2 linked regions of the Homo sapiens genome follow. The protein of the gene in region 1 interacts with the protein of each later gene in a pairwise test. Each region holds a gene or a part of one and is shown in the gene's direction. Other genes may lie near its edges.

Evidence for each region. The genes of interacting proteins can lie anywhere in the genome.
Region 2: the proteins of CDCA7L (region 1) and AVPI1 interact in binary tests that used the Homo sapiens proteins (3 or more experiments, as listed by UniProt).

Annotation. Positions count from the first base shown.
Region 1 is NC_000007.14:21,935,900-21,939,399, reverse strand, and holds part of CDCA7L (cell division cycle-associated 7-like protein), read left to right. Parts: intron 1-3,500. UniProt on the Homo sapiens protein: Plays a role in transcriptional regulation as a repressor that inhibits monoamine oxidase A (MAOA) activity and gene expression by binding to the promoter.
Region 2 is NC_000010.11:97,684,442-97,688,549, reverse strand, and holds the start of AVPI1 (arginine vasopressin-induced protein 1), read left to right. Parts: upstream 1-1,308; 5' UTR 1,309-1,784; intron 1,785-4,108. UniProt on the Homo sapiens protein: May be involved in MAP kinase activation, epithelial sodium channel (ENaC) down-regulation and cell cycling.

The DNA of each region.
Region 1 (3,500 bases):
CTTCTCTTTTAAACATAACATTGACTACCCTGTGGGGCTTTTTATTGTGGTAAGATATACATAATAAAAGGTACTATTTTTAACCTTTCAGTGTTACTAAGTATAGTCACAATGTTGTGCCGCCATCACTGATCTCTCATGAGCTTTTTCATCATTTTAAACTGAAACTCTCTACCTACTAAACAATTACCCCTATGACCTCTTCCTCCAGCCCCTGGTTACTTCTGTTTTAGTTTCTGTCTCTGAGGATATGACTATCCTAGGTATCTCATATGAGTGGAATCATATGGTATTTGTCCTTTTGTCACTGGCTCATTTCACTTAACATTGTTATTAAAGTTTATCCATGTTATAGTATGTATCAGAATTTTTTTTCAATTATTTCTCTTTTGAGACAGGGTCTCACTCTGTTGCCCAGGCTGGAGTGCAGTGGTGCTATCGTGGCTCACTGCGCCTTGACCTCCTGGGCTCAAGTGATCCTCCCACTGCAACCTCTTGAGTAGCTGGGACTATAGGTATGTACTACCCTGCTTGGCTAATTTTTCTTTTTAAAATTTCTGGTAGAGATGGAGTCTCTGTGTTGCCCAGGTTGGTCTTGAACTCCTGGGCTCAAGCAATCCTCCTGTCTTGGCCTCCCAAAGTGCTGGGATTAGAGGCATAAGACACTGTGCCTGACGTCATTTCTTTTAAAGTCTGAATAATACTCTTATGTGTACATACCATCTTTATTTACTCATCTATTTATGTTGTCGGTTGTTTCCACCTTTTGGCTATTGTAAATACCAATGAATAAACATTGGCATACAAATATCTGCTTCAGTCCCTGCTTTCAGTTGTTCTGGGTGTGTGTTCCTAAAAGTAGAATTGCTGGGTTATATGATAATACTAAATTCAATTTTTTCAGAAACCACTATACTGTTTGGCACAGTGGCTGTGTCATTTTATATCATCATAAGCAGTGCACGAGTGTTCCAATTTCTTCACGTCTTTGCCAGCCCTAGTTCTTTCCTGGATTTTTTTTTAATGGCCATTCTAATGTGCATAAAGTGGTATCTCATCGTGGTTTTGTTTTGCATTTCCCCAATGATTAGTGATGTTAAGAATTTTTTTCTTGTGCCCGTTGGTCACCTGTACCTCTTCTTTGAAGAAATGTTAATTCAAGTCCTTTGCCCATTTCTTAACTGGGTTTTTGTAGTTGTTAAGTGAGTTATTTATATATCTTGGATATTAATCCCTTATTAGATATTATTTGCAAATATTTTCTCTCATTCTATATAGGTTGCCTTTTCACTGTCTTGATAGCGCCCTTTGCACAAAAGTTTTTAATTTTGAGGTCTAGTTTATTTATTTTTCTTTTGTTGCCATATCCAAGAAATTATTGCCAAATTCAGTGTCATGAAACTTTTCCCCTGTATTTTCTTCCATGAGTTTTATAGTTTTAGCTCTTATATTTAGATCTTTGATCCATCTTGAGTTAGTTTTTATAGATGGCTTAAGGTAAGGGTCCAACCTAATCCAATTTTCCCAGCACTGTTTGTTGAAAATACTGTTCTTTGCCATTATTCTTGGCATCCTTGTTGAAAATTAGTTAACTGTATATGCAAGGGTTTGTATCTGGGCTCTTTATTCATTTCCATTGATATATATGTCTGCCTTTATGCCAAGACCACACTGTTTTGATTACTATAGCTTTGTAGTAAGTATTGAAGTCAGGAAATGTGAGTCCTCTAACACTGTTCTTTTTTTTTTTTTTCTTTTTTAAGGGATGGAGTCTTGTTCTGTCACCTAGGCTAGGGTGCAGTGGTGCAATCTCGGCTCACTGTAACCTCTGCCTCCTGGGTTCAAGCAATTCTCCTGCCTCAGCCTCCCGAGTAGCCGGGACTACAGGCACATGCTGCCATGCCTGGCTAATTTTTTTTTGTATTTTAGTAGAGATGGGGTTTCACCATGTTGCCCAGGGTGGTCTGAAACTCCTGAGTTCAGGCAGTCTGCCCACCTCAGCCTCCCAAAGTGCTAGGATTTCAGGTGTGAGCCACTGCGCCTGGTCTGTTCTTCTTTTTTAAGATTGTTTTGGCTATTTAGGGTCCTTTGAGATTCCACATTAATTTTAGGATGGACTTTTGTTTTTACGAAAGAAGTCACTGAGAGTTTGAGAAGGAATACATTGAGTCTGTACATAGCTTCAGTTAGTATTGTCACCTTATATTAAGCCTTCCAATCCATGAACATGGGATGGTTCTCCATTTCCTTGTCTTCCTTGATTTTTTCGGGGATGTAGTTTTCAGTGTACAAGGCTTTTTTCGCCTTTTTGGTTAAACTTATTTCTAAGTACTTTATTATTCTGATGCCATTGTAAATGGAATCGTTTTCTTAATTTTCATAATTGTTCATTGTTAGTGTGTAGAAGCATAGTTGATTTTTGTGTTGATTTTGTGTCCTGCAATGTCTAATTGTTAGCTCTAACTACTTTTTGTGTAATCTCTAGTGTTCTCTACATATATAATCACGTCTCTTATAGCAGAGATAAATTTTGCTTCTTCCTTTCCAATTTGGATGCGTTATTTATTTTTCTTGCCTGATTGGTCTGGCTAGACCTCCCAATACTGCGTTGAATAGAAGTGGTAAAAGCAGGCATATTTGTCTAGCTCCTGATCTTAGGGGAAAAGCTTTCAATCTTCCATTCATCATTGAGTATCTTGTTAGTTGCGGGTTTTTCGTATATAGCCTTATGTTGGTGAGTTTAAGTTTCCTTCTATTTTTTTTTTTTCTGATGAGGGAAGGGTGTTGAATTTTGTCAGATGTTTTTCTGCATCAGTTGAGATGATCTTTGTTTTTCCCCTTTATTCTGTTCATAGGGTGTACTACATTAATTGATTTTTATGTGTTTGAACCATTTTGCATTCCTAGAATAAATGCCACTTGGTGATCTTGTATAATCCTTTTGCTACACTGCCGAATTTGTTTTACCTGCATTTTGTTGAGTATTCTTGTATCAGTATTCGTAAGAGATATGGCTGTATAGTTTTCTAGTATCTTTCTCTGGCTTTGGTATCAGGATAATGCTGGTCACATAGAATGAGTTTCAAGTGTTCCTCCTTCTTCAAGTTTTTGGAAGACTTTGAGAAAGACTGGTGTTTGTTCTTCTTTAAATGTTTGGTAGAATTACCCATGAAGCCATCTTGTCCTGGGGTTTACTTTGTTGGGAGGGTTTTGATTACTACTTAAAATCCTTATTTCAAATATATTCAGATCTTCTGTTTCTTCATAATTTAATCTAGCTAGGTTGTTTGTTTCTCGGGATTTATCCATTATATCTAGATAATCCAATTTGTTGGCATACGGTTGTTTATAGTACTCTTAAAATCCTATTTATTTATTTATTTATTCATTTTGAGACGGAGTCTTGCTCTGTCGCCCAGGCTGGAGTGTAGTGGCACAGTAGCGGCTCACTGCAACCTCCGCCTCCTGGGTTCAAGCAGTTCTCTGTTTCAGCCTCCCAA
Region 2 (4,108 bases), on another chromosome or scaffold:
TCATCTTCCAAGGACAAAACAAGCATTTATCAGAGGCCTACTGGACACCCTGCCTCCACTCCTGCCCCCTCCAATCCAAGTTCCAAACTGCAGCCAGAGTGACCTTCTAAAAACACAAACTTGTCATGATGATGAAATTTGCAAAGTGCTGACTGACACTACTGGTACGTGGTAAGTACTATAAAATGCCCGTTACATAAACACAGTACATATAATGCCATTCCTTGTTTAAACCCCTCCAAGGATCACATGCAACCTTCTCTGCCTGCCTCTGCCTTCTACTTCCCACCGTGCTCTCTCTTGCTAGCCTTACTCCGGGTCGCATTTAATTCCTCCGGAGCCAAGCTACCTCCTGGCCCAACCAAATGCCTTTCCCTCTTTCCTTAAAGCAGTCTCCCCAGATCCACTCCTCTTCATTTGACCAGTTTCAACTCCTTCTTTATATCTCAGCTTAAATGCTGCTTCTTCAGCCCTCCTGAACCTCCCAGAGGAAGCTTAGGTTCCTCCATATTTATCCTCTTATAGCCATAACATTGATCACAACTGTAATCACATACTCCATGTTTTAGGTTGTTTAATGCCTGCCTCCCTTACTAGGCTGTAGACTCCCCAGGACAAGGGCTATAGGTCTTTCCGTCTCTCTTGTTTACGGCCTATCAAGGAACTCGGACAGCATAGGTCACTAATGAACATTTCCGAATGCATACAAACTTTAAAATACGGTCTTGTTTAGGTAACCGGCCCAAAGTCGCACAAATGACCCAATATTTGAACCCACGACATTCTGGCTTTGAAGCCCAAGGTCTGACTCCAGCAGACTGCCCCCTCCTCTCCCTCAAAGCCGGAGCCAAACGGTGGGCTGGGAGGGGACTTGAGCGGCAGAGTCTGAGGATCTGCAGAGGGCCACGCGCTGCAAGGCAGTCAGTGCCGCGCGCGCTGGCCTCGGGCCCAGGAGAAGGGGCATCCGTCACGTGTACCCGGCAGGGCCAGCTTTCGCCGCACCCTGGGGCAGGAATGCAGCCCCGCCCAGCTCCCGCGCCAGCAAAACCGCGCTGGCCCTGGGGACTGACGTCAATGAAGGGGGCGCCTCGGGCGCCGCGCGGGGGCGGAGAGGGCGGTGGGCAGGGCCCGGGCAGACACGCCCCCTCACCGCCGCTCCGCCGCCGATTAGGTTTGAGGAAGCTTCGCACTCCGCTTTCGAGGCCAGCGGAGGCGGGGGGCGGGGATGGACACGCCCCCTCCCTGTCTCCCACCGATGATTGGCGCACGGAACTCCGCCTTGGGTTTGGAAGGCTCGCCTGGGAGCTCATACCTGGCTAGGGCCGAGGATTGGCTGTTCCGGGGCTAGGGAGCGCTTTCTCCCGGGAACCGCGGCTGTGACCCAAGTGGCCCGGACCAGTTTGGGGCTGCGTGCGGCCTGCCTCAAGCAACCAGGTACGTAGGTCGGCGGCCCAGCTCGGCGCTGCGGTGGGAGCCGGAGGGCGACAGTCAGAGCCGGGGTGCCAGCGGGACGCGACCGCCAGATCCACTTAGGACCCCGTCGTTCTGCGAAGCGGCCACGTCTGAGTCCCGGGGCCTCCTCGTGCTGCAGATGTCGCCTTAGGACCTCGGCCAGGATACCCTCTGCCATGCTCTTGTGCTGCCCGTGATCACCGACTGGCCCTTGTAAGCACCTTCGCAGAGCTGCGCCTGCCCTTTCTGAAGGCTGTGGAAGAGGTTGGAGTGGGCGCATCTTAGCTTGCCCCATCCCCATTTGAGGTCTGTCGGAGCTGCCCTTCAGTGTGGTGAGTACCTGCTCCAATTCTCCACCGGGCAGTGGAGTGCAGAGGGTACAGAGGCTAGCTTGGGAGTCCTGACTTTGGATCCCTCCCTGCTCCTTCCACAATCTACAGAAGCAGATAGCCTCCGAAAGGCTTCTGGGACCGACCTTCCCCAGAAGACCTCCTCAGCCATCTGGCAGGAACAAAAATAACAGTGGCTTGAGAGCCCGGGTGCTGGGGTCAGACTGCCTGGGTTCATGTCCCAGCTTCCATCACCTGCCAGCTGTGTGACTTTGGGTGTAGCTTTCTCATCTGTAAAATGGGTATAACAATAGTGCCACCTTAAGTGAGGAGGAAAGAAAGCACCCATCTGAACGTGCTCTGTTCTGCGCTTGACACTGAACAAGCTGCCTCTATGATTTTAATCATAAAGCTATGATTTAAAAGTACACAGATTTGTTGATGGCTGTGATGATGAAAATGACAATGATTCTATAGCCCCTGGTAGTCAAACAGCCTTTCCCTTCATCATTTATTCATTCAACCAGCATGCATAGAATGTCTGTGGTATACCAGGTACTAGAAGGAATGCCGTCACAAACTTAATCTCCCTTTTCCTGTTAAGAGTTATTTATACTCACCATTTATTTTAAAAAGCTTATTTAAAATTTTATAGAGGCAGTCTTGCTATGTTGACCAGGCTGGTCTGGAACTCCTGGGCTCAAGCAATCCTCCCACCTCAGCCTCCCAAAGTGCTGGGATTACAGGCGTGAGCCACCAGGCCTGGCCTTATACTATTTTGATGACGAGCAACTTGTGGCAGGGGAAACTGAGACTTATCCAAGGTCACCCAGTTAGCAGCACAGCCAGAATTCAGGGTTCTAGAAATCTTGAAAGGGTTATCCCTAGATCTAGTAGCAGTTTATTTCCAGGTCATATATGAGAACTGGTCTGGGGAAAGGGCCCAGTTCCTTTCTCCACCTCCAGGGGCATGGATTTGGAGGCCAATGTATATCCAGTTGTCTCGGCATACCTCCCTGAGGCTAGGCCCTGCTGGTGGGGAAGCCCACACAGCGATTTGAACTGGGCTTCCCATTTGAGGAGCCACAGATTTTGGCTGCTGTCCAGTGGCATGTCTGTATAGGATAGCAGGCCAGGGTCCCAAGTGTTGATTCAGGCCTTGGGCCAGAGCCTCCAGTAATTTTTCTAAGAGCCCCTAGGCCCCTGATTACAGAGATTATTGCTATCACCTGGGTTATTGGAAGGGGGCCTCCTCCTGCATGAGGACCTAGGAGTTGCCAGCTCACCCAAATGTGTTCTGCCTCTGGTGGTTACCTGTGCCTCCCTGGGACTGCAGTGAGATACTCTCCTAGAATAGCTGTCTGAACTGAACTTCATATATTGCAAAGAGTGCTCAATTGCGCGCCATATTTATATATTGCAAATTCATTGCATGGTGAGTCACTTTTTAAATATATTTCTTTGTTAGGGTTCCACAGTTCTTCACTTATTGCCTGTTTCAAAACAAGTTGAACTTTGTCATTTTCAATGTTTGGTATTTCCTTTGGGGTTCACTTTCAACCTAGTTTGTGTCAAATTGAAGTATTTTGCAATTGGTCTTTACTCGTTTGTACACAGACCCATACTTACCTTCTTTTATGTCAGTTCTGAAATGAAAGGTCCATTTGTAATCTTTTAATAGCCCCATGGTTTCATTTTCTAGTTTTCAAAAGTACTATTGTGCAAGTATACACTGACTTTTCCTGGACTAAGGTCTTCTCCAGGAAATTGGAGGGAAAATAACTATTGAACACATGGAATGAGACAGGAAAAGTTTCCTTTGATAATAAAAGTGTTCTGATTCGACATTTCATCGGTTTTCCCAAAACTTAACCATCTAATCCTACCTGGAATCAGCCTAGTTTTATTCCCAGCCTCACTCTGCTGTCTGAATCCCAGAATAAGAGACAGAGCCAAGAGTGAGGGGCTTGGCCGGTCATGGTGGCTCACGCCTATAATCCCAACACTCTGGGAGGATGAGGTGGGTGGATCACTTGAGGTCGGGAGTTCAAGACCAGCCTGGCCAACATGGTGAAACCTTGTCTCTACTAAAAATACAAAAATTAGTCGGGCGTGTGGTGGGCACCTGTAATCCCAGCTACTTGGGAGGTTGTTGAGGCAAGAAAATTGCTTGAACCTTGGAGGCAGAGGTTGCAGTGAGCTGAGATTGCGCCACTGCACTCCAGCGTGGGTGACAGAGTGAGACTCCGCCTCAAAAAAAAAAAAAAAAAAGAGTAAAAAGAGTGAGGGGCCTCAAAATCTGGAGGTGCTAGGCCCTCCCTAAGGTT